2 separate regions of the Homo sapiens genome follow, and region 2 is linked to region 1. Evidence: fine-mapped expression QTL. A gene starts in region 1. The other region holds a variant in brackets. All regions are shown on one strand. Distances are between the middles of the regions. Region 1 holds the start of CCDC17 (coiled-coil domain containing 17). Region 2 overlaps P3R3URF-PIK3R3 (P3R3URF-PIK3R3 readthrough).

Evidence for each region. PIP is the estimated chance that this variant, and not a neighbour inherited with it, causes the effect.
Region 2: its variant is fine-mapped to the expression of CCDC17 in whole blood (TOPMed, PIP above 0.99).

The regions. Positions count from the first base shown.
Region 1 is chr1:45,621,472-45,626,989 of GRCh38, reverse strand. It overlaps CCDC17 (coiled-coil domain containing 17), which reads left to right and starts at 2,936. Exons shown (of 13, transcript NM_001114938.3): 1 at 2,936-3,254; 2 at 3,338-3,433; 3 at 3,551-3,773; 4 at 3,873-4,035; 5 at 4,156-4,239; 6 at 4,323-4,441; 7 at 4,642-4,749; 8 at 4,995-5,113; 9 at 5,255-5,352; 10 at 5,506-5,518. The coding sequence starts at 3,081.
Region 2 is chr1:46,140,746-46,145,745 of GRCh38, reverse strand. All of the region lies in intron 1 of P3R3URF-PIK3R3 (P3R3URF-PIK3R3 readthrough), which reads left to right. It also overlaps a transcript of PIK3R3 not described here. Among named protein-coding and RNA genes, the nearest start is that of PIK3R3, 11 kb to the right of the region's middle. The variant C/G (reference allele first, on the strand shown) is at 2,312.

The DNA of each region.
Region 1 (5,518 bases):
ACAGGCGCCTGCCACCACGCCTGGCTCATTTTTTGTATTTTTAGTAGAGATGGGGTTTCACCGTGTTTGCCAGGATGGTCTCGATCTCCTGATCTTGTGATCCACCCACCTCGGCCTCCCAAAGTTCTGGGATTACAGGCGTGAGCCACCGCACCCGGCCCATTCAACAAATACTTTCTAAGCCCGTGTTGTATGTCCCAGGCATTATGCAAGGCTCTGAGGATGCAAGGAGTGCCCAGCCCAGTAGGGGAGAGAATAGACAGTGATGTAAGAAAAGGACAGGGGTTCAAGACCAGCCTGGGCAACACAGTGACCTGTCTCTATAAAAAACAAAAACATTAAAATGGTCAGGTCCAGCCAGGCGTGGCTCACGCCTGTAATCCCAGCACTTTGGGAGGCTGAAGCGGGTGAATCACCTGAGGTCAGGAGTTCGAGACCAGCCTGGCTAACATGGTGAAACCCCATCTCCACTGAAAATACAAAAAATTAGCCAGGCATGGTGGCGGGCGCCTGTAGTCCCAGCTACTCGGGAGGCTGAGGCAGGAGATTGGCGTGAACCCAGGAGGCAGAGCTTGCAGTGAGCTGAGATAGCGCCACTGCACTCCAGCCTGGGAGAAAGAGTGAGACTCTGTCTCAAAAAAAAAAAAAAAAAAAAACAACCAGGCATGGCAGCAAGCACCTGTAATCCTAACTATTTAGGAGGCTGAGGCAGGAGAATTGCTTGAGCCCAGGAGGCAGAGGTTGCAGTGAGCCCATACTGCACCATTGCACTCCAGCCTGGGCAACAGAGCAAGACTCTGTCTCAAAAACAGAAACAAAATAGACAGGTCCACGTGGTAGCACACACTTGTAGTCCCAGCTTCTTGGGAGGCTAAGGCAGGAGGATTGCTTGATTCCAAGGCAGTTCAGGGCTACAGTGAGCCATGATGGCACCACTACAATCCAGCCTGGATGACAGTCCTGCTCCCGCCTCTTCGGCCTAGAGCAGGAGATTAGAGAACTACAAGCTGTCTCTTGAGGGAAAAAAAAAAAAAATGGTAGTAGTATTTCTACTGAATGCCTATCACTGTTGCACCATTGTAAAGTCAACCAGTCAAAAGTCTTAACCATTGAAAATTGGGACAAACTTAGTTGTTGAAAAGGAGGTTTTGATTTGGGCTTTGCCATTTACTTGTTTTCTGAGAACATATTTCTAAAAATGTACTCTTTATGTCAGTTGGAATTAAGCTGAACTGAGATGACATACTTTGAACACTTTGTAACTTGCTGCTGGTGGGTCATACCTTGGCTTTAGGTACTGAGTAGGGAAATGTCTTAAGTCCCTGTCTTGTTTAGAAAAGGGAGTTTCGGCCAGGCATGGTGGCTCACACCTGTAATCCCAGCACTTTGGGAGGCCGAGGCGGGGGAATCACGAGGTCAGGAGATCGAGACCATCCTGGCTAACACTGTGAAACCCCGTCTCTACTAAAAATACAAAAAATTAGCCAGGCATAAGGCTGGGCGCAGTGGCTCACGCCTGTAATCTCAGCACTTTGGCACGCCGAGGCGGGCGGATCACAAGGTCAGGAGATCAAGACCATCCTGGCTGACACGGTGAAACCCCATCTCTACTAAAAATACAAAAAAAATTAGCCGGGCACAGTGGTGGGCACCTGTAGTCTCAGCTACTCGGGAGGCTGAGGCAGGAGAATGGCTTGAACCCGGAAGGCGGAGCTTGCAGTGAGCCCAGATAGTGCCACTGCACTTCGGCCTGGGCGAAAGAGCGAGACTCCGTCTAAAAAAAAAAAAAAAAAAAAGCCGGGTGTGGTGGCAGGTGCCTGTAGTCCCAGCTACTGGGGAGGCTGAGGCAGGAGAATGGTGTCAACCTGGGAGGCAGAGCTTGCAGTGAGCCGAGATCGTGCCATTGCACTGTAGCCTGGGCAACAGAGCGAGACTGTCTCAAAAAAAGAAGAGAAAAGGGTGTTTCTTGGCCGGGCGCAGTGCCTTACGCCTGTAATCCCAGCACTTTGGGAGGCCAAGGCGGGCAGATCACGAGGTCAGGAGATCAAGACCATCCTGGCTAACATGGTGAAACCCCGTCTCTACTAAAAAATACAAAAAATGAGCCAAGCGTGGTGGTGGGCACCTGTAGTCTCAGCTACTTGGGAGGCTGAGGCAGGAGAATGGCGTGAACCCAGGAGGCAGAGCTCATTGCAGTGAGCTGAGATCGCGCCACTGCACTTCGGCCTGGGCGACAGCGAGACTCCATCTCAAAAAGAAAAAAAAAAAAGTAAAGAGGGTTTCTTAAGAAATATGCGGTCACCTCAGAGCTCCTCCATATATTTTGGGAGTGGGAGTGGAGTGAAGAATTTCACCAACAGTTCAGGGTCTTTCTGGCTTCTGGCCAATCTTGGGAGAGAGAAGGGGTTTTTTTCTGGACTTGATTCCCTCATCTGATAGATTCATTCTGTTCGCCCACAGCTTTCATTTCTTGGGCTGTGCTGATTATCTTCGTCTACAGCTGAAAAATGAGGAATCAGGGAATGGGAGTTAGGGAGACTGCTATCCCTGGTGCGACATGGTTTCCAGGCAGAATGCTGGAAAGGTCAGAGTGCCTCCTTTGCCAGGTAGTTCTCTGGATTGGAGAATGGTACAAACTGTTACATCCACTTGGGAGTACAGCAATGAAAAAGATGACACTTGCCTTTTAGAGGCTATTAAATGACCAATGATGTAGTAAGTGATAAGGGCCCAGCCTAGTCTAGGAGGCAGCTGCTTTTTCCTCTTTATTAATAGTCAGGGAAACCAAGCTACAATTAGAGACTTGCCCACGTTCAGACTTTGTAACACTTTTTCAAGCCAGTGGCTCCTCCCAAACGGCCGAGGTTTCCCCACCCATTCTCCTGACCTGCCCAGCCCTGTGGTTGCTGTCCAGGGAGCTAAGGCTCTCCCCAAACAAACTTGAAGATCTCACAGACCTAATAGACACGGCCTTTCCTCTCTGCCTCTGGCTTTATGTCTCTTTCATCCTCCTCTGCCTTTCCCCTGCCCTTGATCCCTTCTGCAGGTCTTGGCTGGTTTCAGGAAACGGGTCCCATCCCATGGACTCCCACTCTGGGGAGCCTGCGCTCCTGCCCTGTGGGACCTGTGACATGGTTTTCCGCTCCTCAGCTCTGTTAGCCACCCATACTCAGCGCTTCTGCATTGGCCACCCGACCCAAGAGATGACATTTGGAGCACAGGCATCAGTTGCCACTGAACCCCAGCGGGCCGCGGTAAGGGCCTCCATGGCCATGGGTGGGGATTCAAAGGAGCCAGGACCTTTATGATTCCTCATCCTACTACACCCTATCCCCAGGTTGTGCCACAAGAACACCAGGGCGTGCCACAAGAACCCCAGGGCCTCCCAGACCAGCAGGCCAGTAGATCTGCTCTAAAGAGGTTAACAGAGGAGGTAGAGCTACCTACCTTCCCCCAGGGCTCAAAACGTTGAGCGTCTTCCCCAAACCTGTAGATCATACTTGGGACAGATTCTGCCCACGCAGAGATCGCGGATCGCTGTTACCTCCAGGTGCAGTGGCTGCGGCTATCCCTACAGGAAATGCGGCCCTGGATAACAGAGGTCCCCAGGGTGTTCGCGGGGCCCTGGACACGTTCCGAGGCGCGGCCTCAGAGTCCCATGTCCGAGGCGGTGGGAAGCCCCAGCGAGCGGCTGCGGGCGCTGTTCAGGACTCGCGCGAGGCGCGTGGCGGAGATGGAAGCGCAGAGCCGGGCCCTGCAGCTACGCGGCGAGGGTGAAGGAGATGGGGGACGGGGACCAAGGACCTCCTCTGCCCTCGCCGTTTGGCTTAAGCTTGCTCGGGCCGGTTCTGACTCGGCCCGCATTCCCTCAGAACTGAGCCGACGCCTCCAAGTTGTGGCCTGTACGCGGGGCGGGATGTCCCGCCTCTTCGGCCTGGAGCAGGAGATTCGAGAACTACAAGCTGAGGCCGGGAGGACGCGGGGAGCTCTAGAGGTGTTGGGGGCCCGCATTCAGGAGCTGCAGGCGGAGCCAGGGTGAGACCCGACTAAGCGGATCCCCGGAACATGCGGCTCCGGGGTGGGAGGGGCGGGCTGGCTGCAGCCCCGGGGCCTCTGATGCGTTACCGTCTCCCTGCGCGTCGCCTGCCACCCCAGGAACCCGCTGAGCTCCCGGCGAGAGGCAGAACTTTATTCTCCAGTGCAAAAGGCCAACCCGGGAACTCTGGCTGCCGAAATCCGGTGAGAGCCGGGGCCGGAGATGGGCATAGGGCGAAGCGCTGAGCAGTTCTGGAAAGACGGCCTTCCTGTTCCCCACTCCCTAGGGCGCTGCGGGAGGCCTACATTCGAGACGGGGGCCGGGACCCCGGCGTGCTGGGCCAGATATGGCAGTTGCAGGTGGAGGCGTCTGCACTGGAGCTGCAGCGGTCGCAGACCCGCAGAGGTGAACAGGAGGGCCTCTCGCCAGCGGTGGTCAGTCCTGGGAGGAGAAAAGAACTCGAGGGAGGGCCTGTGGCTGTGGATGGCATGTGAGCTGACAAGTCCAGCCTTATCCGAAGAGCCTTAGCGCTGGAGAGCTGCTCACAGCCGGACGCGGCCAGTCACCAGAGGTCAAAGGTGACAGGTCACACTTGTTCATCGCAGGAAGGGCAGGTGCCACCTCAGGGGAGCTTCCAGTAGTGGAGGCTGAAAACCGGCGCTTGGAGGCAGAAATCTTGGCCTTGCAAATGCAGAGGGGTCGGGCACCCTTGGGTCAGTGAGCACCCCAACCCTATCCCATCCCACTTATCTCTCCCCAGCAGGCCTGGCTCAGGCAGACAGTGCATGGGGAACAAGACCCGTGTTTGTGACTCCCCTAGTTCATGTCTGCACGTGTGTATCCCTGTATCCACAGGGCTCCGCCAACCCATTTGTGGGCCCAACTCTTGGGGGAGGGGTATCTCAGCTAATTACCTGCTTTGTCCAACTTAGGGGCACCCTAACTCTTCTGCTCCTAGGGCCCCAGGATCTGCGACTCCTGGGGGATGCCAGCCTACAACCGAAGGGGAGGAGAGATCCCCCACTCCTCCCGCCACCGGTGGCACCACCGCTGCCACCACTTCCAGGCTTCTCGGAGGTTCAGTTCTTGGGTGGGGCAAAGGCTGTGAGGACACGGGGTGGGTTGGGGGAACAGGTTGGAGGCAGCTCTGCTCTGAGCAGTTGGGGGAACATGAGCAGCTACAAGGCTTTCTGGAGGAGTCAGCTCTCTTCCCCACAGCCACAGCTTCCTGGAACAATGACCAGAAACCTGGGCCTGGACTCACACTTCCTCCTGCCCACATCGGACATGCTGGGCCCTGCACCCTATGATCCTGGGTGAGGCCCGTGCCACCTTCGACAGCCTCTGTGACTTGGCCAGCACTGCTGGTTAAGGGAGCCCACTAGGACCAGATAGGGTTAGGGACCTGCCTGAGAGGAGGGAGGTTGAAAGGAGTTGGGTATTTCTGTGCTAAGACTTGTGTTCCCCAGGGCTGGCCTGGTC
Region 2 (5,000 bases), 520 kb before region 1:
GTTTGTATGTGGTTTATTCCCATCAAAACTCATGTTGAAAATTGATCCCCAACGTGGCAGTGTTGGGAGGTAGGGACTAGTGGGAGGTGTTTGGGTCATGGAGGAGGATGGGTCACAAATATATTAATGCCTTCCTATAGGGGTGAGTGAGGTCTTGAATTCATGGGAATAGATGAGTTAAAAGAGCCTTGTTTCCTTGGTTGCTTTCTCTTGTGTCCTCTCTCACCATGTGATCTCTGCACATGCCAGCTCCCCTTCCACTCTGCACCATGAATGGAAGCAGCATGAGGCTCTCACCAGATGTGGCTGCCCAATTTTGGACTCTTCCAGCCAACAGAATCATGAGTCAAAATAAATATCTTTTTTTTTTTTTTAAAAAGTTATCCAGCCTCAGGTATTCTGTTATAGCAACACAAAATGGACTAAGACAGGGATGGATGGAAGCAGCTTGGACATGTATACAAAGACTCCCTTGACAGTCTCACAGTGCAGGATAGAGCCAAGGGTAGGAAGAAAAAGGGGTCAGTTCTCTCCCTCCCATCTCCCCCATGTTTTGTCAGAACTCTAAGGATCTGTGAATTCTAAATTTTAACCCAGTCTTCTTCTTTTTTTTTTTTTTTTTGAGGTGGAGTTTCATTCTTGTTGCCCAGGCTGGAGTGCAATGGCGCGATCTTAGCTCACTACAACCTCCGCCTTCTGGGTTCAAGCGATTCTCCTGCCTCAGCCTCCCGAGTAGCTGGTATTACAGGCATGCGCCATCACACCTGGCTAATTTTGTATTTTTAGTAGAGATGGGGTTTCTCCATGTTGGTCAAGTTGGTCTCAAACTCCCGACCTCGGTGATCTACCCGCCTCAGCCTTCCAAAGTACTGGGATTACAGCCATGAGCCGCCGTGCCCAGCCTCAACCCAGTCTTCTAAGTTTGCATGAAGATATATTTGGCAAGATAGGAGAATTGAGTCGTTTTTTTTTTTTTTTTGAGATGGAGTCTCGGTCTGTCATCAGGCTGGAGTGCAGTGGCACGATCTTGGCTCACTGCAACCTCTACCTCCCGGGTTCAAGTGATTCTCCTGCCTCAGCCTCCTAAGTAGCTGGGACTACAGGTGCGTGCCACCATGCCCAGTTAACTTTTGTATTCTTAGTAGAGACAGGGTTTCACCACGATGGCGAGGATGGTCTCAATCTCTTGACCTTGCGATTCGCCCGCCTCGGCCTCCCAAAGTGCTGGGATTGCAGGCATGAGCCACCGCACCTGGCCGAGGATTGAGTATTTTTTATTTAATGGTTGGCCTGATTTGTAACTTTCAAGTATTTTGACATATGGTATATGGCTCTCCATTTATATTCTCATCCTGGGCCCTGCAAATGTTAGGTGTAGGCCTGACCTTAGTATAGGAACCAAGCTGGGCCTTAAGAAGCTCTATACTCAGGAAATTGATTACTGCTCGTATTCTTTCCATTCCTCACCTCTGCTCCTTTCAGAGCATTTCTTTCATCCTTCCTTGGCTTTCTGAAGACCGGCTTCCTTTGCAACTCAGCCTTCAGGGTGAACATGGCCATAATACCTCCAGAGATTGATTCCGTGTTATAGGTCCAAACCCCTGAAGAGCCTAGATCTTGTTTTGGGTACTATTTCCAAATATTTATGAAAGAAACTCTAATCAATTTAGCCTAGGCCCTACCAGCTATGGCCAGGGACACAGTCATGTACAAATTGAGAAGGGGGACATCATGGTGAACTGGCCAGAGGTACTAAAAAGTATCCACTACAATGATAGATACCAGAGACTGGGAAAGGGTGTGTGGGTGGGAGAGGGGGATGAAGGGAGGTTGGTTAACAGTGAGATAGAAAATGTAAGTTCTAATGTTCAACAGCAGAGTAGAGATGCAAGTATTATGTATTTCAAAGTAGCTAGAAGACTTTAAATGTTCCCAACACATAAAAATGATAAATACTCAAGGTGGTCAGGCATAGCAGCTCACATCCATAATCCCAGAACTTTGGGAGGCCAAAGTGGGAGGATTGCTTGAGTCCAGAAATTTGATACTGGCCTGGGCAACATGGTGAGACCCTGTCTCTAAAAAAAAAAATTTTTTTTCTTAGTTAGCTGGGCATGGTGGCATGTGCTATAGTCCCAGCTACTGGCACTGAAGAGCAGGGGTGGTGGTGGGGAGGGCAGAGGTGGGGGGATCACTTGAGCTTATGAAGTCAAGGTCGAGGCTGCAGTGAGCTGTGATTACACCACTGCACTCCAGCCTGGGCGACACAGTGAGACCCTGTCTCAAAAAACACAAAACAAAACACTCAAAC[C/G]TAATGGATACACCAAATACCCTGACTTGATCATCTCACATTGTATATACTAAAAAAAATCACATGTAACCCATAAATATGTAAAGTATTCTGTATCAATTAAAAAAATAAACACAAAAAAGGTATCTACTACAATGGAGCAATTGACTGACCAGCCTGGGTCATTGATCCACTCACACCTTTAGGCCTTAACCCATTAGCAGTGATCTTGGAGCTAGCTGATCTACCCAGTGAGGTCCTGGAAATGAATGAATCACACGCAGAAGCGAAGGAGAAAAATACTACCAATGAAGGGAGAGATTCTCCACAAGAAAGGCTGTAATTTCATTATTGAGTGGCCCATTCTTTAGGGTGGAGACATGCTGGTTACCTAATCACTCATTTAGTGTGGCCTTGTCTACCTCCTAAGCATCTCTCACATCTACACAAATCTACACAGGACTCTTGATCGTTTGCCCACGTTGTTGCAACAATGTTTTCCAAGTCTTCAAAGTTTGCCCCTTCAATCCATTTTGCAATCTGATGATTCTCAAATGCAAATCTCATCACAACACTCCTCTGCTTAAAACTCCTAAACTCCCCCCATTGCTTGAGCATAAAGTACACATTCCTATCTTGACTTATAAGCCTCTTCATGCCTACCCTGTAGCTTCATCCCCACCACCCTTTACCTCCTTTAACATTAGGCCAGCCTGCAATTACTTTCTTTTTTTTTCTTTTCTTTTTTTTTTTATTTTGAGACGGAGTCTTGCTGTGTCGCCCAGGCTGGAGTGCAGTGGCGTGATCTTGGCTCACTGCAAGCTCCGCCTCCCGGGTTCACACCATTCTCCTGCCTCAGCCTCCCGAGTAGCTGGGACTACAGGCGCCCGCCACCACGCTTGGCTAATTTTTTGCATTTTTAGTAGAGACGGGGTTTCACCGTGTTAGCCAGGATGGTCTCGATCTCCTGACCTCGTGATCCACCTGCCTTGGCCTCCCAAAGTGCTGGGATTACAGGCGTGAGCCACCGCGCCCGGCCTCTGTAATTAATTTCAATGTCCTCAAAGAGCGATGTGCTCTCCTCTGGGGTTTTGTACATGTTTTCTTCCTGTCTGGCCTATATTTTCATCTGGCCCTGTCACCTAACTAGAAAAGGAACTAGCTCAGATATGATGATTTTGAAACATTTGTGTGGCATCCAGTAGGCATTTGGATAGACAGGAGAGGGGGTAGGACTGGTTTTAGGAGGCTGAAGAGGGTGCCATCCAGAGGTCAAATCTAGTGATTAGCTTTCAACTCCAGGAAAGACATGCTTCTTCAGAAAGGAAGGCAAGGAAGCAAGAATGGGTACAGGTTTACAGGCTTTTGAAGGGATGAATACAGGAAGGGAGTATTATGCCTGTTGATTTCTGTCAAGTAAAAGGAGAGGTCACATTTACTGATCTGACAGTGGAAGGTAGTCACTTGAGATGAGTAGTGAAGGTTTGGAGTATCAGAATAAGCAGATACAGAATGAGCCAAAGGAATCCCAATTATGACCAGAGACCAGCCCAGAGCTAAGTTGGTAAACTTGGTTTTCTTTACCTAAGCCCAACTACCTGGGCATAAGAGCAGAAGTAGACTGTTGTTTTGGCCTGGGATTTGGCTTTGGCTGGCTGACTCTTTTGGAAAGACAGGAGAGAGACATTTGATGACACTGGGAGAAAATGGTTAAGATTCACGTTGGGATTAGGTTTCTGGTTTCTAGGACTAGAGCTAGTCTATGACAAAGTTTTATAGGTTTGAGCACTATATTTAATGTGACTTACAGTCATTCATTGGGAAAGATGATCCTTTATTCTAAAATTATATGATCTCTACATATTGATTTCAAAATGTGTTTGAAGGCTGGACGCGGTGGCTCACGCCTGTAATCCCAGCACTTTGGGAGGCCGAGGCAGGTGGATCCCCTGAGGTCAGGAGTTCAAGACCAGCCTGGCCAAGATGGTGAAACCCCATCTCTACTAAAAATACAAAAATTAGCTGGGCGTGGTGGTGGGCGCCTGTAATCCCAGCTACTCGGGAGGCTGAGGCAATGAATTGCTTGAACCCGGGAGGCGGAAGGTTGCAGTGAGCTGAGATCATGCCACTGTACTCCAGCCTGGGTGACAGAGTGAGACTCTGTCTCAAAAATAAATAAATAAAATAAAGTAAAATAAAATGTGCTTGAAAAAAATTAAATTATGGTGGTTGTATCATTTCCTAGGGCTGCCATAATGAATTACCACAAACTGGGTAGCTTAAAACAACAGAAATCGGCCAGGTGCAGTGGCTCACGCCTGTAATCCCAGCACCTTGGGAGGCCAAGGTGGGACGACCCCTTGAGCACAGGAGTTCAAGACCAGCCTGGGAAACAGTGAGACCTCGTCTCTACAAAAAGAAAAAAAAATTAGCCAGGTGTGGTGGTGCACACCTGTGATCCCAGTTACTCAGGAGGCTGAGGTGGGAGGACTGTTTGAGCCTGGGAGTTCAAGGCTCCAGTAAGCTGTGAACATGCCACTGCATTCCAGCCTGAGTGACAAAGCAAGACTCTGTCTCAAAAACAAAAAAACAAAAAAACAAAAAACAAAAAAACAAAAAACAAAGAACAAAAAAAACCACAAGTTTATTCTCTCACAATTTTGGAGGCCAGAAGTCCAAAACAAGGTGTTGGCAGGGTTGGTTTCTTCTG